4 linked regions of the Homo sapiens genome follow. The protein of the gene in region 1 purifies or fractionates together with the protein of each later gene. This does not show direct contact. Each region holds a gene or a part of one and is shown in the gene's direction. Other genes may lie near its edges.

Region 1 (3,500 bases):
CTGGCCACACTCCCTGCTGTGTCTTCCCAACTACCCCTGCTCTGCCCTCACCGCACTCAGGGGTGGCTGCTAGCCTAACTGTGGCTCTCTGGGTCTCCTCTCCTTCCTCCCCTGCCCCTCATTTCCTTATTCCTGGAGTCCTGTCCTTATGACACTAGCCAGGGAAGGGGAAAATAATGCCACCTCTGCTGGCATTGTGGGGAGTGGGGGGACCTGACTGTTGGTCTAGATTAGGCTCAGCCCCTGACTGGGTGTACAGCTTCAGGTGTGCCATCCCAGCCCCCGATGTGCCCCTCGTGTGCCCCCTGGGCGCATGCCCGCCCTGCCCTGCCCAAGGTGTATTGGGAGGAAGCAGTCAGGTAACAAGGATAAGGAAACTCGCCCTCAGACCAAGCTTAGAGCAAAAGATGCACTTCCTTTGCTGGCGTTTCTGGCTTTCCCCCCTCCAGGGATCTGCATGGCATATTATGAGAGCGGCTACAACACCACAGCCCAGACGGTCCTGGATGACGGCAGCATCGACTATGGCATCTTCCAGATCAACAGCTTCGCGTGGTGCAGACGCGGAAAGCTGAAGGAGAACAACCACTGCCATGTCGCCTGCTCAGGTGAGGCTCTGACTTTCCAGTGATGCCATCCTCAGGACTAGGCGAGAAAGCCGACAATGGGATCACCAACCATGTCTTGCTTTAACTAAAATTTGGAGTTCAGGCTTGCAAATAGGTCTGTTCCAGATTGGTAAATTATGCAACAGTTTCCAAGGTGACACTCAGGATCCTGTGGCTGACTTCTCCAAAGATGACTTATTCCTTGTAGACAGTTTTATGAAGCCCCCACTAAAGCAGGTGGATGGACAAACAACCCTACTGCCCTTTCATGTTAGAGATATTTGATGTCTTCAGTAAGAAAAAGGAAGCTGCCTGCCAGCTGCTTTCCATAAGCAATTCGCTCAGAGGATGCAGTTTGTACTTCTTAGTGCAGAATGAGATGAATACACTTTAGGTTTCTTTCTTTTCTTTTCCCTTTTTCTTTTCTTTCTTTTTTTTTCTTTTCTTTTCTTTTTTCTTTTTTTTTTTTTTTTGAGACAGGGTCTCACTCTGTTGCCTAGGCTGGAATGCAGTGATGTGATCATAGCTCATTGCAGTCTTGACCTCCAGGCCCCAAGTGATCCTCCCTCCTCTGGGTAGCTAGAACTATAGGCACACGCCCGGCTATTTTGTAATTTTTTTGTAGAGACAGAGTCTGGCTATGGAGTCCCGTTATGGGGTCCCACCTGGGCTGGTCTTGAACTCCTGGCCTAAGGAGATTCTCCTGCCTCGGCCTCTCAGAGTGCTATAGTTATTGGTGTGGGCCAGTATATTTAGCTAGCCACATGTCTTAAACATTAGAAATTAAGCTAGAATTTACTTTCATGTCTTCTACTTTAGTCATTCCAGAAATACATATGAGCACAGCATTGAGGATAACAAAATACATCAGGCATGAATTCTGCTTTACCGAACTTTCATGTGACATGACAAGAAAAGAGAATATGTGCTTACATGAAGTTAAATCATGTAAGGAGGAGTGCGCTGAGTGCCATGGGCTTCAGAGGAAAGTGACAGTATTAAGAAAACCATGGAGCCAGGCACAGTGGCTCATGCCTGTAATCCCAGCACTTTGGGAGGCCGAGGCAGGTAGATAACCTGAGGTCAGGAGTTCAAGACCAGCCTGACCAACACGGTGAAACCCCATCTCTACTAAATAATACAAAAATTAGCTGGGCACGGTGGTAGGTGCCTGTAATCCCAGCTACTCGGGAGGCTGAAGCGGGAGAATTGCTTGAACCCGGGAGGTGGAGGTTGCAGTGAGCCGAGATTGCACCATTCTACTCCAGCCTGGGTGACAGAGAAAGACTCTGTCTCAAAAAAAAAAAGAAAGAAAAAAAGAAAATCATGGAAAATTCTGTAAACACAGTGATATTTGACCCGAGACTTAGAAGATAGGGAAGATTTGGGTAGAGATAGAGAAAAGTTATCCCAGGCCAGGGGAAGAGCAAAAGCAAAGAGGTGCCTGTGGGAAGGTGTGAAGCATGAACAGAGAGTAGGGAGAGGCTTGTTTTTTCTGTAACAAAGTGACATGAAGAGAATCCCAGGGAAGGCAGGTGGAGAGGCTAACGACCATCTGAGTGTGAAAAACCCAGGCTAAGAGGCTTTCACTGATTTCTGCCTGCAAGAGGAAACCAAGAGAGGTCAGTTAATTAAGCATTGCTTCAGCAAGATCAATCTGCAAGCAGGGTGTGGGATAGATTAAAGCAGAGACCATTTAAGTGTCACCACAGTTATTGAGCTAAGTGCCATAAAAAGACTGAATGATGGTCATGGTTGGTGACATGGAGAAGACTGATGCAAGAGATGCTGAACAGGCAGAGGGCAGAGCTCAGTCAAAGGCATTTTCTCTGTGCTGCCTCTAGAGTGTAAGTCCCTTGAGGGCAGAGAGTTCTGTTTCATTCACTGATGTATCCTCAATGTCTAGAATGGTGCCTGGCCATTGCAGGAGCTCAATAAATGTTTATTGAATAAATGGAGAGAATGAGGAACAAGAGTGAAGTCAGAGAGTCATAAAATATTCTATTGCAAATTCTTTCAGAGCAGAAAATAAACCGTTTTAACTTCTCTTTGCCACATCCAGGAGTCCTCTCCTTATTGAAGGGAGATACATCCCAAGACCCCCAGCTGATGCCTGAAACTGCAGATAATACCTAACCCTGTATATACTATGATTTTTCCTGTACATAGATACCAATGACAAAGTGTAAGTTATAAATTAGGTACAGTAAGATGTTAACAATCAATAATAATGGGATAATTATAACAATATACTGTAATAAAAATATGTAAGCACCTTCTCTCTGACTCTCAAAATATGTTACATTGATAAAACTAACCAACCACTGCTGAGTGTAAATGAAAACTTGGAAAATGAAACTGCAGATAAGGGGGAACTATTGTACAAGATAATCAGTATATGGGTTTGAATGTTTGAATGACTGAATAATATGTTAAGTTACCTAGTATATTGTCCCTACCCTAACATTGATAAAGAATGATCACTACCTCCTGAGATAGATCTCCCGATTGTTGGTCAGCCCTTAATTTAGAACATTCCTTTGTTAGGCCAAAATCTGTCTTCTTCTAACCTTCTATATCAATCCTAGTTTTTCCTTCTGGGTTTATTCAAAACAAGTTTGCTTTATGTTACACATAAAAACTTATTAACTGTATGCAAATGATTTATAAGTACCTCTCATCTCTGGTTTCTTATCTTCTGAGCTAAAACATTCAGTATATTCACTTTCCATAGGCATGACTTTTGAACCCTTCTCTGTCCCAGTCAATCTTATTAGCATTCCCTAAGAGCTCACCAATGGAGTCTTTCAGTTAAATATGAGGATTAAATGTGTGCATTTACCTCCCATGGTGGGCTGAGTCCCCAGCTTCCAAATGTCCACTCTCTAATCT
Region 2 (3,500 bases), on another chromosome or scaffold:
CCCCCGCCTCCCAGGTTCAAGTGATTCTCCTGTCTCAGCCTCCCGAGTAGCTGGGATTATAAGCACATGCCACCATGCCTGGCTAATTTTTGTATTTTTAGTAGAGATGGGGTTTCATCATATTGGTCAGGCTGGTCTCAAACTCCTGACCTCAGGTGATCTGCCCGCCTCGGCCTCCCAAAGTGCTGGGATTACAGCTGTGAGCCACCGCACCCAGCCAGTGTTAAAACTTTGAACCCATTTTCTTGCTCTGAAATTTTTTTCCAAAGATTTTTCATTCACCCTGATGGTTTTTGCACACTGAGCATAAGAGTGTGTGTAAACGGTGGCATAGTGTGTGTTGTGTGTATCTATAATTTGGATAAGATGTTCACAGGAAAAAGCCCTGAACTACAAAGATGTGAGAATAAAAGAAGTTAAGGTAGAAAAATGAAACACTATTAATGGCTAAGAGTATAATTGTGATAATTATTTCTGATGATATTTCATCAAATTAGGCATTTGCTCTGGCCCAAGATGAAGATCCATTTTGCTTGTATGGATTTTATGAACTTGCGTAGGATTGTTAGTTTTTAACACAGGCAAATTCAGGTATTTTGTTGCATCTTTGAAAAGTCATGTTATATCCTTTTATTGCCCTAAAACCTTGTTTTGTTTCTACTTTCAGAGTTCTTACGGATATGGTGACCTATTCTCCGACACATGGAATGCATTTACTGATTATGACGTTATACATTTGAAAACTTATGATTCCAAAAGGGTACTGGAAATTTTCCTGAAATGTCTGTGAATATTTCTTGAGTGCAGATGACTCACTCATAAAATAAACATTTATTATGAGTTCCTATTAGCCATTACCACTGATTTCTGAATTTCTGAATTTCTTTTATAATTAGAATCCTCAGTGTTGTTAATCATGCAGCCTTTGAAAAGTTTTTTCTATAATCTTTCCAAAAATATGAATTCTGTTCTCTTTGAATGAAATAGTGTGCTATTCAAGCAATGCAAAATGGAGATTAATTAAAATCTATTTCTCAAAATTATACGTGCTATTTTTGGTGTGAAGGGTGCAAATTACATCTTCTTTTAATGTATCTTTGTTCTTAGGTATGTTTTAAAGAAGCTGTTTTTTCATTACTCCCCCGCATGAGGTATGGGCTGTTCTATAATACTCCTCTGGTAAGCACATTGTCTACCATTAGCATTCATATTTACAGACATAACATTTATACATAAGTTGACAGTATCTTAAATTATAATACAGAAGTATTCATTGTAATATGAACCAGTGTTTTTATTTTAGATATCTGGCTGTCAAAATACTGGACTATTCAGGGCATTTGCCCAGCATGTACTACACAGACTAAACATCACACAAGAAGGACCTAAGGTAATGGATACACTGCGGATTCTGAGGTGGGCTTGAGTTTTCTTCCCTAATAAAAATCGATACCACCTTTTCAGAAACAGAAATAATCAGGAGACCATGTTTTTGTGTTAACATTTTCTGGGGAGGCCAAGGCAGGTGGATCACTTGAGTCCAGGATTTCAAGACCAGCCTGGCCAACATGGCAAAACCCCATCTCTGCAAAAAATACAAAAATTAGCTGGACGAGGTGGCATGTGCCTGTAGTCCCAGCTACTCAGGAGGCTGGGGCATGAGAATCGCTTGAACCCAGGAGGCAGAGGCTGCAGTGAGCCAAGATCATGTCACTGCACTCCCGCCTGGGCGACAGAGCAAGACTGCCCCAAAACAAAACCCAAAAACATTTTCTGACCTGGAGTCATCTGAAACCAGGTGTCAAAAACCTATAAAAGAGAAGCTAAGGGATATTACAAGAATGTGCTTCCTCCTGTCCTCCTTTCCCCCTTCATTGGTTATATCTCCCTCACCTCCCCAAATGTTCATGTAACATACACAACCCCTGCCAAAAAATTCACCCACCCAACCAAACAGACAATGTAATGAGCTGGTTTTTGCCTTCGGTGGTTGAAGTGGATACATTTTTATTCCCTGAGAGTGGTGAAGGAATCAAGCTAAAAAAGAAGAGTTCTATTAATGTATCCTGGTTGAGTTTCATCTCTTTGTGAAAATCACATTTTGGGTTCAGATGTTCATTCATCTACCCAGGCATATGCAGTGTTATTTTACCGTTTCATTTTGATTACAGGATGGAAAAATTCGAGTCACCATTCTTGCACGGAGCACAGAATACCGGAAAATCCTTAACCAAAATGAGGTTAGTTTTTGGTATGCATTTTTAATGCCTTCATATTCAATTCATAGAGCAAATTGTGTTTTTTTTTTTTTCACATTACGTTAAAAGCTTTGGTTTAAAACTTAGTTTTGAGAAAAGTTTGATGGCCTATGCCCGGTTTATTTATTAGATTTGAATTTCTAGTGAGATTCACCAAACCACCCATAGACAAACTAGCTTTGCCTTATAGTAAATTTCATCTGCATCAACTCAGCATGGAAAAAGCTGTCAGAATCTTGCCTTGACTGCAGTAGAGGGCATCCGGACAGACAAGTAGCAAAAATGTAAGACTTTCTTTTGCATAGTTGATGCAACAGATGGTTGAGGCCATTAATCCTGTGGTATCAGCAGCAGATTTAGTTGGAAGAATCTCTGTCCTCTTACATGACCATGTCTTAGAAACTGCATTTTCAGCATCCTTACTCATTTCAGTAGCACCAACTCATAAATTACATTTAACCTCAATGAGATCACCATGCAAGGCCACTACCTACAACATCATGGCCTGAAGATAGCCTCTCAGTAGTAAGAATTTATTCTACAATAGTTAATTGAGCACCTGCTATGTGTCAGGCCATGTTCTAGGCCCTGGAGATAGAGTAGAGCAAAGACGGGGAAGGTGCCTGACCTCATGGAGCTTACACCGTAGAGGTGAGAGACAGATAAGAAGTAAGTGAAAACGTCAATAAGTACGGTGATGTCAGGCAGTGATAAGTGCTTTGAAGGATGAACCAGGGTGATGTCATAGAGACTGGGGATGTGGATGGATGGGGGTTTGTACTCACATGAGGGCATTCAAAGACCTAATCAGAGAAGAATCTAGCAAGGGAGAGAGCCTCTCGGGCAGAGTCAAATGTATTCTAGTGGACTGAGCTTTCAGTATTCTAGAAACAGAATACCAATATGACTGTAGCATCTTGAGAGAGGTGGGGCGATATCCAAGAGGTCAGGCATGGTGCAGGGGGCCACAGATCGTATCAGCCTCCTAGACCTTGGTGGGAGAGGGATTTTATTCCAGTGTAGGGGAAAGCCATTGTGAAGTTTTAAAGCAGGGCGTTGTTGGTAGAATAATGTCTCTTCCTGCTCCTCCCAAAGGATGTCCACATCCAAATCCCTGGAATCTGTGAACAGGTTAGGTTACATGGCATAGGGAAAGTAAGGTTGCAGATGGAATTAAGGTCCCCAACCAACTGGCCTTAAAGTAAGAAGATTATCTTGGATCATCCACGTGAGCCCAGTATA
Region 3 (3,500 bases), on another chromosome or scaffold:
ATGTAGGCTAAATTCCTAAAAGTATAATAACTAGGGCAATTAATGTCATTTTAAAATCTTGATAAATAGGCTGGGTGAGGTGGCTCACGCCTGTTATCCCAGCACTTTGGATGGCTGAGACAGGCAGATCATCTGAGGTCAGGAGTTCAAGACCAGCCTGGCCAACATGGTGAGAACCTATCTCTACTAAAAATAAAAAAATTAGCTGGGCATGGTGGCCTGTGCCTGTAATCCTAGCTACTCGGGAGGCTGAGGCAGGAGAATCACTTGAAACCCGAGGTGGAGGTTGCAGTCAGCTGAGATTGCGCCATTGCACTCCAGCCTGGGCCACAGAGCAAGGCTCCATCTCAAAAAAAAAAAAAAATCTTGATAAACAGGCTGGGCACAGTGGCTCTCACCTGTAATCCCAGCACTTTGGGAGGCTGAGGTGGGAGGATCACTTGAGCCCAAGAGTTCAAGATCAGTCTGGACAACATACCAAGACTGTCTCTCCACACACACACACACACACACACACACACACACACACACAAACACATACAGAGTTGCCAGGTGTGTTGGCACACACCTGTAGTCCCAGCTACTCAGGAGGCTGAGGTGAGAAGATTGCTTGAGCCTAGGATTTTTGAGGCCACAGTGAGCCATGATCATGCCACTGCACTCTTCAGCCTGAGTGGCAGAGCGAGAGACCCTGCCTCAAATAAAAAAAACCTTAAAAAAAGAGAAATCTTGGTAAATAGAATCTAATTGTCCTACAAAGAGGCTAAACACTTCCACAACCGATATATCATATGCTGTGAATAGATCTCACACCCTTACCAACACTGCACTATTGGACTTTTTGATCTTTGCCAATCTGATTGGTAAAATTGGTATCTAGTTTCATTGACATTTCTTTATTATTAATACAGTTGAGCATCTTTTCCTATGTTTGTGAACTGTTGATATTTTTTGCAGTTATCTCCCTATATAAAAAACACTTTTTTTTTTTTTGGCTAGAGGAGCTCACTACATTGCCTACTGTGTCACTATGTTGCTGGTCTAGAACTCTTGGGCTCAAATAACCCTTCTGCCTAAGTCTCCCAAGTAGTAAAACAATATTTTAAATCAGTTATTTCCATGCTGCCAGAAAATTTTGATCAAGCCTTTGAATATTGCCCCTAGCATAGTGCTGGTCAGGACCTCAGAGGATGAGGCAGAAACAAGCTAAACTGTCAGTGTATCTTCTTTTTCTTTCAAGAAATCCCTGATTTCCCAGGGAATCTAGTCAGAAAGCTGTGTTACACTATTTATGATTATGTATATAACACTTTTTCTGGCTTGCAGAACTGATTTTGATAATGTTCTTTATTCAGGTTGAAGGTAATGAAAGGTTTTCTATCTGTTCTCATAAACTAGGAGACTTAATTATAATGGAAATAAAAATGGTGTCTTTGTGAGGAGCAAAGCCAAAGGAACACAGGTGGAAAATTAGCTATTTCAGCTATTACGAGAGTTTGTATCTTGTCTACTAATTAAACTATTCCATATAAGGGAAATAAAGAAAAGAACTGGAATGAATAAAGTGGTAGAAGTAGCAATAATACTCCCTTCAAAGCTATGACGATTTATTTGGAAAATTTTATTAAGTATTGTAAGCTGGAGCAGCTTAGCTATGAGTGAACTTGCACAATACAAAAAAGCAGAATAGCCCCTTTAGAAGCATTGTTTTCAGGAGACTTTGCAGTAGACTGATGATATGGAACACTGGAACACTGGCTTGTCTTACTTTAAAATGTGAATGGGACCTCGCCTTGTCCTAGAGCCTGCAGGCACTACTCTGCTGAATTTATGGTATGTCTGGTTGACAGGTGTAGTGGTGTTGAGCACTTTATTTTGGAAGTGATCGGGCGTCTCCCTGACATGGAGATGGTGATCAATGTACGAGATTATCCTCAGGTTCCTAAATGGATGGAGCCTGCCATCCCAGTCTTCTCCTTCAGTAAGGTAAGTACAGGGAGAGCCACATGGGTGGATGGAGAGTGGTCCTCTAGGATATGAGCATGAGATCTTTGTCCGGTGACATAGTCTGATGGATAATGGTAAGGATGAGGACTGAGGTCCAGAAATGGGTCTGTGTCTCTATTAGCATCACAGTGATTGAGCAAAAAGACAGAGGAGATGAAGTTGAGAGCTGGTAAGTAGTGTAAGATTGCTTGAGTGTCTATAGGGCTAGAGATGGAGGCTAGGGCGTGAGAGGCCTGAGAAACCTACAGGAATTAGAGGTGGGTCTTGAAGATCTTACAGAGCATGGGAGGAAGGGGTCCAAGAAAGCTTGGAGTTAGGGAACACCTTCATTCCAAAAGTTTGTTGAGCTCCTACTATGTATATATTCAGCCATAGTGCTGGGTATCAGCTGTCCCATCTGTCACCATATTCCGGGGGCCCAGGGTGGCTAAAAGTGAACCTGAAGGTGCCAGATAACTCCACACGGTGTGTGTACAAGCCGTGCATTGAAGGGATAGGCTGGAGATAGCCTAGAGGGCTATGCAAGGGGGTGATCTTTTAGACTCATCATGGAAGATTGGAGTAGCTAGGATACACCTGTGGGCTTGGGGAATTGGGGGCAAGGAATGTCTTGTCAGTGCTCAGGTTCATGTAAATGTTGTATCGGCAGGGATGGGCCTTGGTTCCCTAGAGACAAGGAAAGCATTTGGGGGTGAAGGCAGGAAGGCTAGAAGAGAGTGGATGGAAGATTCTATGGGGTAAGAGTGAATTGAGGAAAACCCCATGAAATTTGGGAAAAGGAACACTATTTCTGATTTGGTTTGTCTAAAGCAGAGGGACCTTTTATCCCCACTTTTTCTTTATCATAGTTTACTTTCTCCCTAGACTTGTTTTATTTCCTGTGTTGCAAGTGGGCAGAGGCCACATTTGTGTTGCATTTCCCATGGTCTAGCCTCATTTCTCGAAAGTGTTTGGTTCCATTGTTTGTCATGAAACTCACTCAGAAGAACAGATAGAGGCTCCCATGTAAGTCAGTAGGGACTTCGTGTTTGTTATCTATCTGTTGTTTCTATGGATAATAAAGTATGACCGTCGGTATACTAACTTTCCGTTCATCTTTACTTCCCTTCTGTTTTTTAAATCAGTGACTTCTAGTTTCCAAGGGAGAGTTTTACTCTGTCAACTTTATAGTTAATTGTGCAGCTTCTATTGAATAGCTGTTATGTTTAAGGTGCTTGATGAATCACATTTTTTACATATTTGAGAGACAGCAAACAGCATATTGCACATGTATTTCCAGTGGAAGAAATAGTAGAGTTAGAGGTTTATCAGTGGCCAGATTTTTAACAGAAGTAACCATAAAAAGGGAACAAATGGAGGCCAGGTGTAGTGGCTCACACCTGTAATCCCAGCACTTTGGGAGGCCGAGGCAGGTGGATCAAAAAAAAAAAAAAAAGGGGGGAACATATGGCTTTAAACTTTTTTCTTTTTTTTGAGGCAGAGTCTCACTCTGT
Region 4 (4,206 bases), on another chromosome or scaffold:
AGCTATGGATCAAGGGAAATCTTCCCGGGTCCCTAGTTGGTATCTGTTTTCATAGCATCTTTGGGGAGGTTTTGTAAACAAAGCATTGGTAGAAGGGCCCTTGGCTGATGGGGCCATAAAGTGCCCTTTCTTTGGTTTTGTGCTCTCCCTCTCTTGTGGGGCCAGTCATTTGAATCCAGAAGATATCCCAGGATGGAGCTGCCCTGAGTATTTCTGTGGCTGGTTGGAAGGCTGGCACACAACAAAGTGGGCATGCAGCAGGCTGCCTCCCTGGCTTAGGCCAAAAAAATAAAGCAACTCAGAGATGGAGAAGAGGCAGGAAATCTATGTTGTAAAAAGTCTTTGTTTAAAGGAATTCCGTTCAGGTGCTGAGAACGGGGTGTTCAGCAGAAGAGGATAATATGAGTAAACATTGGCAGTAAGAACAAACACAGCAGTATCACTGTCTGCGTCTGGCCTCCTCCTGTGCTCAGTCACAGGTCTCTCCCACCGCCCTCTATGATAGCAATCATAAACAACATGTAGAAGGGCTTTACAGTTCACAGACCTCAGTTCCCCTCAGCGGCACTTCCTTGCAGGGTTTCTTTATGCACTGGATGACCCTGGTTCCACATAAATGAAAACTGGGCTTAAAGGACACATCCATGTCCTGGGAGCTGTACAGACTTAAAGAAAAACCTAGATAGGGGCAAAAATTGGGGCAGGCGGTGGGGGTGGGGGGTGGGGGGTGGGGGGGGGGAAGAAGTGGTCGAGAGAGTCATCTAATAGGTCACCAATGTTGCTTCTGGGAGGTTGCCGGAGGGTTGGCTCCTTTCAGCCAGGTTTAGGGCCAGGTCTGGACACACTCAGGAGGCCGGTGGCTGAAGGGCAGAGGGCAGGGTGGAGGCCCAAGTGAGGCCAAGGAAGGAGTGGATGCCGCTGGGGCTGGCACTTCCTTGGCTTCTCAGCGTCCTGGCAACCAAGAAAAGATTCCAGGAGTCGACTGGTGGCACCAATGCGAGAAGCCCCGGGCGGATGAAAGAAGCTGACCCGTGCGAACCCCCCACCCCCTCCACAAAACCAGGAGATTCCTGCCCAAGAGCAAGAGATGGAATTCCCCTAACGGAGGAAGCTGCCGACCTAAGGGCTGGGACTGGCAGCGCGCCCTCTCCGGGAGCTTCAGGTCTGGGGCAGCCTGTGCAGGCGCGGGTGGAGGCCCGGGCGCGTCCCTGGGGGCGGGAGCCAGGGGCGGCCAGCAGGTGGGGCCTGGGAGCTGGACTCCGCCCCCCGCTCCCTCCCCGTTGGTCCGCTGCCGCTCAGCACCGGCCCCTCTCCCGAGCCGGAGCGCGATTGGTGGCAGCGCTTGTCGCTCGGAGGGGGCCGGGCCGCTCTGCTTCGCGGCTCTCCCCGCCGCCGCTGCCGCTGCCGCTGTTCTCCTAGCAGCGCGGGCCGGTCGGACCGCCAAGGCAGCCGGCGCTGGCGATGGGAAGCGGCGTGGCCGCCGACACAGGCAGTGGCAAAGTTTCCCAGACGTACACATCTGGACGCGCGGCTGCCGGCTACCCGTGACCCCTCTAGGAAGGGTTCAGGGATTTTTAATTTGGAAAAAAATCCACCTGGTTTCCTTTGTCAAGGTCTCTCCGGGTGGCCAGCGGCAGGAGCTGCAAACTTGGGCACGGCGGCTACACCGGCAGCGGACCGGGCTTTGGAGAACCTCGGGACTCAGGTGCTGAGGTGCCCAGCGGCTCCGGACGTGCTACGGGGTGCGAGCGCGGGGGAGTTCGGGGCGCACGACAAGGAAGGGCCCCCGGGAGCTCTATATGGAGGAAGGAGCCCAGAATGGTGTGCACCAGGAAGACCAAAACTTTGGTGTCCACTTGCGTGATCCTGAGCGGCATGACTAACATCATCTGCCTGCTCTACGTGGGCTGGGTCACCAACTACATCGCCAGCGTGTATGTGCGGGGGCAGGAGCCGGCGCCCGACAAGAAGCTGGAGGAAGACAAAGGGGACACTCTGAAGATTATTGAGCGGCTGGACCACCTGGAGAATGTCATCAAGCAGCACATTCAAGGTACGGGCGCCCCGGAAACTTGGGTCGCCCATGAGGCCCGGGAGTGCCCCGCGCGGCGCGGGGTGCGCTGGGGCTGGTGCGCATCAACTCAGCCACGGCGGGGCTCTGGGGCCGCAGATGCGTGGTAGTCGTGGGGCCTGCGTGTGAGCTCCTGCCTGCGTTCGGGACCTTCTGTCTGCGGCCGTGCGCTCTTCCCCGGGGCACACGTGTGTGCGCAGGGCTGCACGAGCGGATGTGTGCAGCTAGCTGGCGGTATGGGGGCGCGCTGCGCACGTGTCCAAATGTGCGTGTGACTCTGGGCTGGTTGCTCGCGGGCTCTCGGGATCGCACACAAGTCCGGCTCAGAGTGTGTGTGCATGTGAATGTCTGTGTGTGTACAAGAGGGAACGCGCGGGCAAACGAGCTTTTTTGGCCACTGTAGGCGTCAGGCGAGATGCCCGCGCGGCGGCCCTGACTATTGGCAGTTAAGACCCGCAGGCTGCCGGACAAGCGAGGCTAGGAAAATTGCGTTGTATCAGCCCCAGCCCCAGTCTTGCTGTGATCCCGTTGGTAGGCGATAGGGAATGCAAGGAGCCCTCTGTGGTTGAAAAGCCGCTTGAACCTATAGCAGTCCCTACCCCCACCACAGCCCGCGGGTCCAGGACCCTCTCCAGGAGCAGGTGTCAACGCCGGGAAGTAGCGCTGGAGTCTCTGTCCACTGTGGTGATGACTCCGCCCAAGACTGGAAGAACACGCCCTGGGCTGCGCCTTCCCCGCGGAGCCGCCCGGGACCGGGTGAAGGCCGATCCCTACTGTAGCTCCACTCTCAGGCCCTGGGAGCAGCCGGGGCTGAGCAGACCTGGGTTGGGTCTGAAGTGTAAGGTTACGCTGGTTGGGTGCGCTCCAGACCAGCGCGGGGGTCCAAAGGGAGGGTGGGGGTTGCAGGGCGCTCTCCCGAGGCGACCTGGTCAATGAGCTGTCATGGGAGGGAATGGAGTTCCGGGCGCCAGGAGCACTGGTGCCGGGTGTGCACACACACACACACACGCGCGCGCGCGCGCGCTCACGTCCACACTTCCTCCCCTCCCCGCGCCCCCTGCTTTCTTCCAGGTGTGTGAGCTTCTTAAGGGCAGGGCCGAGCTTGGTTCCCCTGTAAACCTAGCAGGCCCACCAGGCTCAGGGGCCAGTGCATGGCAGACCTTGGCAAAATCGAATTGAACTGAAGGCTTACCCCCCACCCCCCCGCCAGGAGCACTCCCTTTTGTTTACACGTGGATGTCTGAATTCCAATCCTTGCACCTGCTGCTCTTGCCAGAGTAGAGATGGCTCCTCCGTCTGAATTTGGTGTTTCCCCAGGTGTCCAGAATAGTTCCTTTCCAGGAGGGGAAGGTTCAGGGAGGTTCAGGTGAGTGCAGGAGAGGCATCCACATCCATAGTGCTTCCTGACTAATGACTTCAAAACAAGCCCATGGCTTCGGCACCTTCCCAGAAAAGAGGGACATTGACAGCTTCTTCTTCAGACCTGCCTCTGCCTCTCAACCTGGCACTGGGCTTGAAAACCAATTTACCTATCTGTGGGTGCCAGTTGCTGTTATTTCTTACGTGTCCTTTTCCATCCCATAGGTCTTGATTGACTATTAATCAGCAATAGAAGTACAGTGTTTCCCCCAGGGTGATTCAGAATGTTCCCCAGGAGACACAAAGCCATGCCTTACTTTGACATTTCTAGTTTGCCGACAGATTTTGAGATTTTCATTCACAGATTCTGTGTGTGTGTGTGTTCCTGGAAAATGATTCTCTTGTGCTTTTCTTTCTGGTCAGGCAGGAGGTGAGCAAGGTACTGCTTTGGGGATGCTTTCAGGGGATGCCATTAACCCCTGAGCCTGTAACGGAGTGGGTGCCAGTCATGTGGAATGTGGACCATGTCACATGATTTCTAAGGTTCCACATGGAAAAGCATGATGTTGAAGTTGAAAGGAAGCATTGTGATTTTTCTCCCCGGAAACTTTATAACTATGTGTTGTTCAGCACTTTCAAATCTATACCTGAAAAATTGGAGAAGATAGGTTAAAAAAATAGGAGACAGGGTCCCTAAAACACGTGTTGTTCCACTTGTACACGTGCAATGACCCCTGTGGGTATTCAGAAATAACCACAATCTCGACAGAGGGCCA

The links. Proteins that work in one complex are often made in the same cells at the same time.
Region 2: the proteins of LYZL1 (region 1) and EOGT purify together in Homo sapiens (affinity purification with mass spectrometry; 2 studies listed by BioGRID and IntAct, with this or other methods). This does not show direct contact.
Region 3: the proteins of LYZL1 (region 1) and POGLUT1 purify together in Homo sapiens (affinity purification with mass spectrometry; 2 studies listed by BioGRID and IntAct, with this or other methods). This does not show direct contact.
Region 4: the proteins of LYZL1 (region 1) and GALNT18 purify together in Homo sapiens (affinity purification with mass spectrometry; 2 studies listed by BioGRID and IntAct, with this or other methods). This does not show direct contact.

Annotation. Positions count from the first base shown.
Region 1 is NC_000010.11:29,292,070-29,295,569, forward strand, and holds part of LYZL1 (lysozyme-like protein 1 precursor), read left to right. Parts: intron 1-449; coding exon 450-608; intron 609-3,500.
Region 2 is NC_000003.12:68,986,185-68,989,684, reverse strand, and holds part of EOGT (EGF domain-specific O-linked N-acetylglucosamine transferase isoform a precursor), read left to right. Parts: intron 1-667; coding exon 668-760; intron 761-1,107; coding exon 1,108-1,179; intron 1,180-1,303; coding exon 1,304-1,390; intron 1,391-2,171; coding exon 2,172-2,240; intron 2,241-3,500.
Region 3 is NC_000003.12:119,475,463-119,478,962, forward strand, and holds part of POGLUT1 (protein O-glucosyltransferase 1 precursor), read left to right. Parts: intron 1-1,850; coding exon 1,851-1,986; intron 1,987-2,871; exon of another isoform or gene 2,872-3,012; intron 3,013-3,500. UniProt on the Homo sapiens protein: Dual specificity glycosyltransferase that catalyzes the transfer of glucose and xylose from UDP-glucose and UDP-xylose, respectively, to a serine residue found in the consensus sequence of C-X-S-X-P-C.
Region 4 is NC_000011.10:11,619,206-11,623,411, reverse strand, and holds the start of GALNT18 (polypeptide N-acetylgalactosaminyltransferase 18), read left to right. Parts: upstream 1-1,406; 5' UTR 1,407-1,818; coding exon 1,819-2,053; intron 2,054-4,206. UniProt on the Homo sapiens protein: Catalyzes the initial reaction in O-linked oligosaccharide biosynthesis, the transfer of an N-acetyl-D-galactosamine (GalNAc) residue from UDP-GalNAc to a serine or threonine residue on the protein receptor.